2 linked regions of the Homo sapiens genome follow. The protein of the gene in region 2 interacts with the protein of the main gene of each other region in a pairwise test. Each region holds a gene or a part of one and is shown on either strand. Other genes may lie near its edges.

Region 1 (3,500 bases), on a different chromosome or scaffold from region 2:
GGCTGAAATGGTTCTTGTGCCTCAGCCTCCCAAGTAGCTGGGACTACAGGAGCATACCACCATGCCCAGCTAATACTTGTATTTTTAGTAGAGACGGGGTTTCTCCATGTTAGCCAGGCTGGTCTCAAACTCCTGGCCTCAAGTGATCTGCCCGCCTAGGCCTCCCAAAGTGCTGGGATTACAGGTGTGAGCCACTGCGCCCTGCTGATGATACTGTATTTGATATATATTAAGACACTTTCATATTTTAATATCTCTAAAATTAAGAGGTACCTTAACAATCACTGTTGGCCTAGACAGAATTTGCATTTGCTTCTGTCTCTGCTGGGTACCTAGAGAAACTGCCAAACTGAGACCCACTTTAAATTTTCTGCTTGGGGACTTACATGTCACACTGATAATGTGAATTTACTCTGCAAACTTGTTGACTGCAGCTTATGGTTTAAACAACAAAAGATTTCTTTTTCAGTCTATCTAATGCCAAGATTGAATCATGCAAATTGCCTTGCTTACCTTTTCTCTATGGCAGATTTATTTCTTATTTACCCTTATATTGAGCGTATAGCCCTTTGGCATTTCAACCTTATGTGAGGTCTGTTGGACTTCCATTTTGGCTTTTTCTTTTCATGGCACATTAAATAGCTTATATAATTTAATGGCATCTTATATTTGATTAAATGTGGGGTATTTCATTTATGAACGAGTTCTTTCTTTCTCTCTTTTTTTTTTTTTCCTTTTTGAGACGGAGTGTCACTCTGTCGCCCAGGCTGGAGTGCAGTGGCGCGATCTTGGCTGCAACTTCTGCCTCCCGAGTTCAAGTGATTCTCCAGCCTCAGCCTGGAGAATCCCGAGTAGTTGGGATTACAAGCGCATGCCACCACACCCAGCTAATTTTTGCATTTTTTAATAGAGACCGCGTTTCACCATGTTGGCCGGGCTGGTCTCGAACTCCTGACCTCAAGCGATCCACCTGCTTTAGCCTCCCAAAGTGTTGGGATTACAGGCGTGAGCCACTGCACCCAGCTGAAGGAGATCTTTATGTCATACTTTGGTAGGGACTAGGGAACAAGCTTAATATACCTTCCTAGGCATGTGTTCATTCTGAAATAGATGTAACTTGTTTTGAAACTCATGCTGATTTTTTATCAACCTGTGCCATTTGTTCTAACTTAGGCTGGCCGTCTAGATGAACAACTACCCAAGCAAATTCCTTTCACCATCCTCTCAGGAGATCAAGGTTTTCTGGAGCTAGAGAATCAATTTAAGAAGACTCAGAGGCCAGCTCATATACTAAACCCTCACCACTTAGAGGGAGATATGATGTGTGCCTTGTTAAATAGCATATCTGATACCACCAAAGGTACGCAGCTGCAGTCACAGTGCAAACCACCCAAGAGGAGGAGACTTCACTGCTGAGAGAAACCAATAAACTGCTGTCCGCTAGTGAACTGTTGCCTGCTTGCTAAACCATCATGTTCTCTTACTTCTATCTTACTTATCTTTTTTAAAAAAATCTCACTTTCATTCTTTAGTGTTTTAGAAGGAGGATGAATTCATAATAATTTTCTGGAGCTTTTTTTGATCTAGTAGATAAAATCTATATTGATGTATATAAAACATATATTCATGTGTTACAGTATGTTACTACAATTTTAAAAGCTCAGAATTCAGATCTTCACTTTGTTTCTGAAATTCCAAGTTGACCTTCAGTTTTTTAGAAAGCAGTGCGCTTAGAGGTGAAAACCAGAAAGCAATAACAAAGGTGATCATTTAAGAGGTTGACAGTGACAAAATAAAACGCTGATAGGCTTTTAGGTCCTTAGAGAAGTGGGTACATCCTATCTTATTGCTGGGACTTGCACTTTCTTCTGTACCTTTGTGAGATTGTTCAATGAAAGGAGTGCTGATACCCAATTTCACTTCCTAGTATATAAGAAAAGATGTAATTCTAAGGATTCAGAAGTTTTGTTTTTCGTTTTTCATAATTTCTGCAGTCAAATGCTCTACCACTGAGTTATAACCCCCTTTTTCATAATCTCTGAAGTAAAGAAATATGGATAGAATAATTAATGTTTAAATATCCTAATAATTTAAATTCATGAATAAGGTTTGAAGATATTAATGAATTACCTTAATGAAAAATAGTGGCTTTTTGGCATTTTTATTGTGTGCCTTTAAAGCTTTCAAGTCTGCTTGCCTCCTAGATTTTTTTTTTCTTTCAATATATTTGGAAGCACATTTTGATTGAAAACTCATTCTGGAGAATTTTGCTGTAATCACTGATTACAGTGGATCAATTCACTTCTGCAAAGTTAGGAATCAGTAATCTGTGCTCTTTATACTCTTTAAAGTGGAGTAATGATGGAAGATTATAAAAGAAAATGAACTCTTGTGTCTTTATGTCATGCCTTAGTTCTGAGTATTATCTTCCTATTCTGTAATTTTTGTTTTCACTTGTTTTTCTATCTGTGGCTTTCTTTTTTCTTAAAACAAAAAACAAAAAAACAAAAAAAACAGGCTGGGTGCAGTGGCTCACACCTGTAATCCCAGCACTTTGGGAGGCTGAGGTGGGTGGATCACCTGAGGTCAGAAGTTCAAGACCAGCCTGGTCAACATGGTGAAAACCCATCTCTACTAAATATACAAAAATTAGCTGGGCATGGTGGCGGTTGCCTGTAATCCCAGCTACTCGGGAGGCTGAGGCAGGAGAATCGCTTGAACCCAGGAGGCGGAGGTTGCAGTGAGCTGAGATTGCACCATTGCGCTCCAGCCTGGGCAATAAGACCAAAAACTTCGTCTCAAACAAAAAGCAAAACACCTCTTCTACTCTTTTGCCATCGCTTTCCCAGTTCTCAACATCTACTTAATATCCTATAAGATAAAGTTTTACCTTTGCCGCACAAGGCCAACCTCCCTTTCCTTCTCTTATGCTTCTGCTTTTGGGAACATTTCTTTTATAACTCCAAATGTGAAACCTGTTATGGTTTTGCAGAGGCAAAACCATATTCTGTTTGGAATGAGAGGTGAATACGAGTAGACTTGCATGGGTATATTACAGTTGGAGGTAAGATACAGGTTATTAATATCTGCTGATTATGCCCTTCCAAATGACTCTTATGTTCTAGGTATTCTTTTTTTTTTTTTTTTTTTTTAATCACTCATACTCAGTACTCATTTGAACTAACTACTCTCTGGAGGCACATGTGTACTTTATTCTTAGTTTTTGTGACATACAGAGATTGTGCACTGCATGAAGAAGGATATGGGCTTTGGTTCAAATGCTAACTTTGCTGTTTCCTAGCAGCGCGATTTCAGGCATGTTACTTAACTTTTTTGGAGCCTCATTTTTTTGTATTTATATGGTTGTAATAGTTAGTGATGTATGTAAAGTGTCTAGCACAGTATATAAAGCACTTTAGCTATTTAACAAATAATAGCTATTTTTTATTATTACTACCATAAAAAGAAAATGTGATTCCTAGCCACTACATTTTTAATGT
Region 2 (4,164 bases):
AAACCTGATATCCCTCCGAGTATCCTGTAGAGTCATTCCACCTAGGGGAGGAAGGGGGCTGCTGTTAACCAGAGCTGGGCCGGGCTCTCCTTCTCCTGGGTTCACCATTGGTCCCAGGGCCAAAAAAGGGCCCAGAGTGAGTCTCTCAGGGGGTCACGGATGACTGGGATCAACTCCTGCTCTGGAGTCCTCAGAAAGAGCCACACGCACACCCAGACACCCCCCTTTCCTGTTTTACACACATGCACACTCTCACTGTAAGTCTCACAACACCGGCACAGGTGCTCGGCCACACCCCAGCACGCACAGTGACACATGCTACTCCAGGTGCTCCCTTCATCCTGGAGGCAGAGGAGCCTTCACAGCTGAGCCCGAGTGATGGGCGCTCTTCCAGGCACTCATCCTTGTGGTGGGCTGTGGTAGCAGGAGCTCAAGGGCCATTCACACCCTCCCCTTCCCAGCCTCACTCAGCTCTGGATTCAAACCGGGGCTGATCAGGCAGCACTGGGATTGGGAAGAGACCCGAGTTGCAGTCACCCTTTCCCGTAAAGGGGCAGAAGGGAGGAAGCTGGAACCCAGGGGTTTGGAGAAAGTTCATGGAGAGGAGACCGGGAACTAACAGTCCAGACTTCAGCATCTCCGGAGCTTTCAGGAGTGGGCGCAGCGGGAACAAGGCCAAGGAGAAACCTCGTAACCTGGGCAGGGAGGGCGAGTGGAGTCCCCTGAGGAGCTGGGGCTGAGGGCTGAGGGCTGAGGGCTGCCCTCCACATCTAACTCCAGGTGGTGTCCGGGCCAGCAGGCCCCCCAGCAATCGTCTCCCGCCCATAGAGCCCTCCCCTCTCTGCAGCCCCCTCCCAGACCCTCCCCCGGACCCCGCCCTCAGAATCTCCGCCCAGCCCCGTCCCAGCCTTGCCCCCTGGAGCTCCCGACCTGGCCCGGCCTTCTCCCAGGGGACCTGGCTTAAAGTCCTCTCCCCAGTTTCTACTTCGAAGGACCCGTTCTCGCAAGCACAGGGGCCCAGCCCTCTCTCCCGCCTGCCCCCACGGCTCCCGCGGCTGGTTTCGAATCGGGTCCTCGGGACTCCAGGCGAGGGGCTGCGGGTCTGGGTGGATCGGGGTGGAATCCGGGTGGAGAATGGGGGCGGGGCCGGAGTTTCCCAGACCGACCCCCCGGGCCGTCCTCCCGCGGGAGCGCGGCGCTGCACACCCGGCTGGCACCGGCGACTTAGAGACGGCAGCGCACGACTCGCTGGCTCCCCCCCGACACGGCCCCTCCTCGTTCCCCCAACTCCTCCCCGCCACCCCCCCACCCGTTCGCGCTCCACCTTTCCCCGGCTCCTCCCTCCGCGGCCGCGAGCACCCTCCCTTGGCACCCTTCCCCGCAGCCCGAGTGCCTGTCCTCCCCAGCCTCCTCGCCCTCCTCCACCCCCTCTCCCATCACCCTCCCCTCCCCTCCCCTCCCCTCCCCCGTCCTGAGCTCCCACTTCCACACCTACTCCAGGCTCGGAGCCTTAGGACCATCACCTGCCCACCTAAGCCCACGGTGCTCCCTCCTGGGACCCCACTCCTGAAACCCCCTGCCCCTGCCTCCCCCAGCCCGGTGCGCCGGGGCTCTCCGCCCGCTCCCTCGGTCCCTCCTCCCTTGCAGGCGCCGTTTCCCGGCTTCGACTCCCCGCGCGTCTATCCCTCTCCTCCCCGCGAAGTTTCGGGGCTGTCAGTCTGTCAGTCTTTCAGGCCGTCAGCACCCGAGCTGCAGGCGGCGAGCGCCATTGTGAGCAGAGCCGGCGGGGCAGGAGGCCCGGGCGCCTGGGTCCCCGCGGCGCGGGCGGAGCGGCCGGCCAGCCAGGTAAGGGCCGGGGAGGCTCCTCTGCAGGCGGCCCCGCCCGCGTCTCCCTCAGCGCCGCGGTTGGGTCACGGCCGGCTCCGCGCAGGTGACAGCCCCGGGGGTAGGGGCGCGGACGGCGGGCGTGGGGGAGGGGCGCGGGTCCGGGGAGGTCGGGGGCTGGGGGGAAGGGAGGGCAAGGCCGGCGCGGGCAGGGTGAGGGCTGTGGGGGTAGAGGAGACCGGGGGGGCTGGAGGGAAGGGCGGGGGCTGGGAGGGGGTCGGGCGGGAGGCAGGTGGGAAGGGGGACGACGGGCCCCGAGGGGAGGAGAGAGGGAGTGTGGGAGGGGGCCGAGGGGGAAGGGGAGGAAGAAGCGGGCGCTGGGGACCGGGCCACTCGGTAGGGGCGGGAGAGGAGGGCGCTGACAGGTGAGCCCCGGAGCTGGGGAGGGGGCCGGGACCTGGAATGAAGTCGGCGATCGGAGCTGCTTGGGAGGGCGGCGGGGCAGGGAGGTGGAGCTGAGGGTCCCGTCGGGAGGAAAACTTGGGAGGGGTGAGAAGTCCGAGGGGAGCAGAAATAGGGAGGGGGCGCCGCGGCGGAGAAGAGAGGCGCGGAGGGGTGTTCGGAGGGGAGACGGAGTGGGGAGGGCAGGGCCCGCGGGAAGGTCCCGAGAGAGCGGGTCAGCCCTAGACCCCCAGGCTTGGGGGCCGGAGGACCCGGGAGCTGGGAAGCAGCCTGGGAGGGGGGAGGGGAAGAGCGGTTCTGGGGACTGGGGACGGGGAGGGAAGCGAAGCTGGAGCCTGCTGGGGAGACAGAGGGGGAAGGGAGGCGGGGGCCTCGGAGGGGAAGGAGAGCTGCAGAAGGGAGGGGGGAGGGGGAGGGCGGTGGGGAGACGTGGGGGAGGGCTGGAAAGGGGGAGGGGAAGGGAACCGAGGTGAGGCGAGGAAAGGAGAAGGAAGGGAAACCGGGGTGGGGGAGGAGAGGAGGGAGGGGAGAGGAGAACTGGGTTGGGGAAAAGAGCTGAGAGGAGGAGGGCGGGGGTTGGCGAGGAAGGAAAAGAGGAGGGGGAAAGGAAGGGAGAGGGTGTGCAGCCGGGGAGGGAGATGGAGCGGGGGAGAACCGGGAGGGTAGGGAAAGGCAGCCTGGAGTCTGAGAGGGGGAGGGGAGCGCTGCCGCCGAGGCGGCCCGGAGCGTAGGGTCAGGGGAGGCGGTGGCAGCGGAGGGCCGACCCGGACGGGGCCTCGAGGGGTTGGCCCTGCCGGGCTCGGGCGGGCGGAGCCTGAGGGGCGGGGCCGGGGGCGGAGCCGAGGCGCCGGCCCGATTCGCAGGGGAGAGAGGGCGGAAGGCAGAGGGAGCGGGAGGGGCGGGGCAGAGGGAAGGCTGCCGGGGAGATGGGGGAGGGGAGTCTGCTGGGGGAGGGGCGGGGGAGCCGCGGAAGGCGGAGCAGGGAAGGGGCAGCAGGGGCGGTGTCCGGGCCTTGGGCAGCCCGGCACGGGTGAGAGGTGGTTTTGTGGTAGGGGTTTAGGAAGAGGCGATCATTTTCTAGCTACAAGAGGATCCTCTCGAGGACCTCCCCAAGCAGTACCCCTAAAGTGACACTCACTCCCGCCCCTGGGCTGGCTCCTATTTCACCAGCTCGGGCAGTGACAGCTGGAGGACCTGGGAGATGAAGTTTCCCACTCCCCACCCTGGGCTCCCACCCTCAAGCCTCTCCCCAGAGAATCGAATCTTGCCTGCACTTTCCCAGGCAAGGACGCTGGGGCGTGGAGTTGCGGTGCTGATGGGCCGGGGTTGGCGGTGACAGACCTGCCAGGTGAGGGGGTGGCGCGGCTGGTTTCCAGAGCTGACAGAAATCGTTTCAAGGCCTTCTTGGGCCACCTTCAAAGATCTCTTGGCTTGGCTTTCTAAACCCAGTTTCCCAAATTTCCCCCAGCTGTACCTGGGGATGTCACCTTTGGAGCTCCTGGAAGAGCCCATAGGGAGAGGTTGGGCAGAGCCAGGGCCCAGGTGGAAGCTGGCGTGGGAAAAATCTGAACAAGGCTGTCTTTTCTCCATAGGTTCTGTGGCCTGATCCCCAGGAGGAGCTACTCTGGGTTACCATGAGAGAGACCTTGGAGGCCCTCAGCTCCCTGGGTGAGCTGGCAGAAATGAAGGGACTTGGGGAAAAGCTTAGGAGGATTCAGGGGCATCTACAACTCAGACAGCAGAGCCACCCTCAGGAGGCTGCAACCCTGAGGCCCCAGGGGCCTGTAGGTCAGCCTCCTTTTCTGTAGCACGGGGTGTCTGAATGCCTGGAACATGGTGGAGGCTGCGCTCTAGACCATATGTGCACTTGAGCACTCA

Evidence for each region. Proteins that work in one complex are often made in the same cells at the same time.
Region 1: the proteins of ZNF467 (region 2) and ZNF451 interact in a two-hybrid assay, tested with the Homo sapiens proteins (one large-scale study listed by BioGRID).

The regions. Positions count from the first base shown.
Region 1 is NC_000006.12:57,152,688-57,156,187, forward strand, and holds part of ZNF451 (E3 SUMO-protein ligase ZNF451), read left to right. Parts: intron 1-1,173; coding exon 1,174-1,360; intron 1,361-3,500. UniProt on the Homo sapiens protein: E3 SUMO-protein ligase; has a preference for SUMO2 and SUMO3 and facilitates UBE2I/UBC9-mediated sumoylation of target proteins. Plays a role in protein SUMO2 modification in response to stress caused by DNA damage and by proteasome inhibitors (in vitro).
Region 2 is NC_000007.14:149,770,789-149,774,952, reverse strand, and holds the start of ZNF467 (zinc finger protein 467), read left to right. Parts: upstream 1-1,364; 5' UTR 1,365-1,845; intron 1,846-1,865; exon of another isoform or gene 1,866-1,930; intron 1,931-2,191; exon of another isoform or gene 2,192-2,249; intron 2,250-3,456; exon of another isoform or gene 3,457-3,487; coding exon of another isoform or gene 3,488-3,568; exon of another isoform or gene 3,569-3,634; intron 3,635-3,878; coding exon of another isoform or gene 3,879-3,920; coding exon 3,921-3,954; intron 3,955-4,164. UniProt on the Homo sapiens protein: Transcription factor that promotes adipocyte differentiation and suppresses osteoblast differentiation in the bone marrow. Enhances the osteoclast-supporting ability of stromal cells.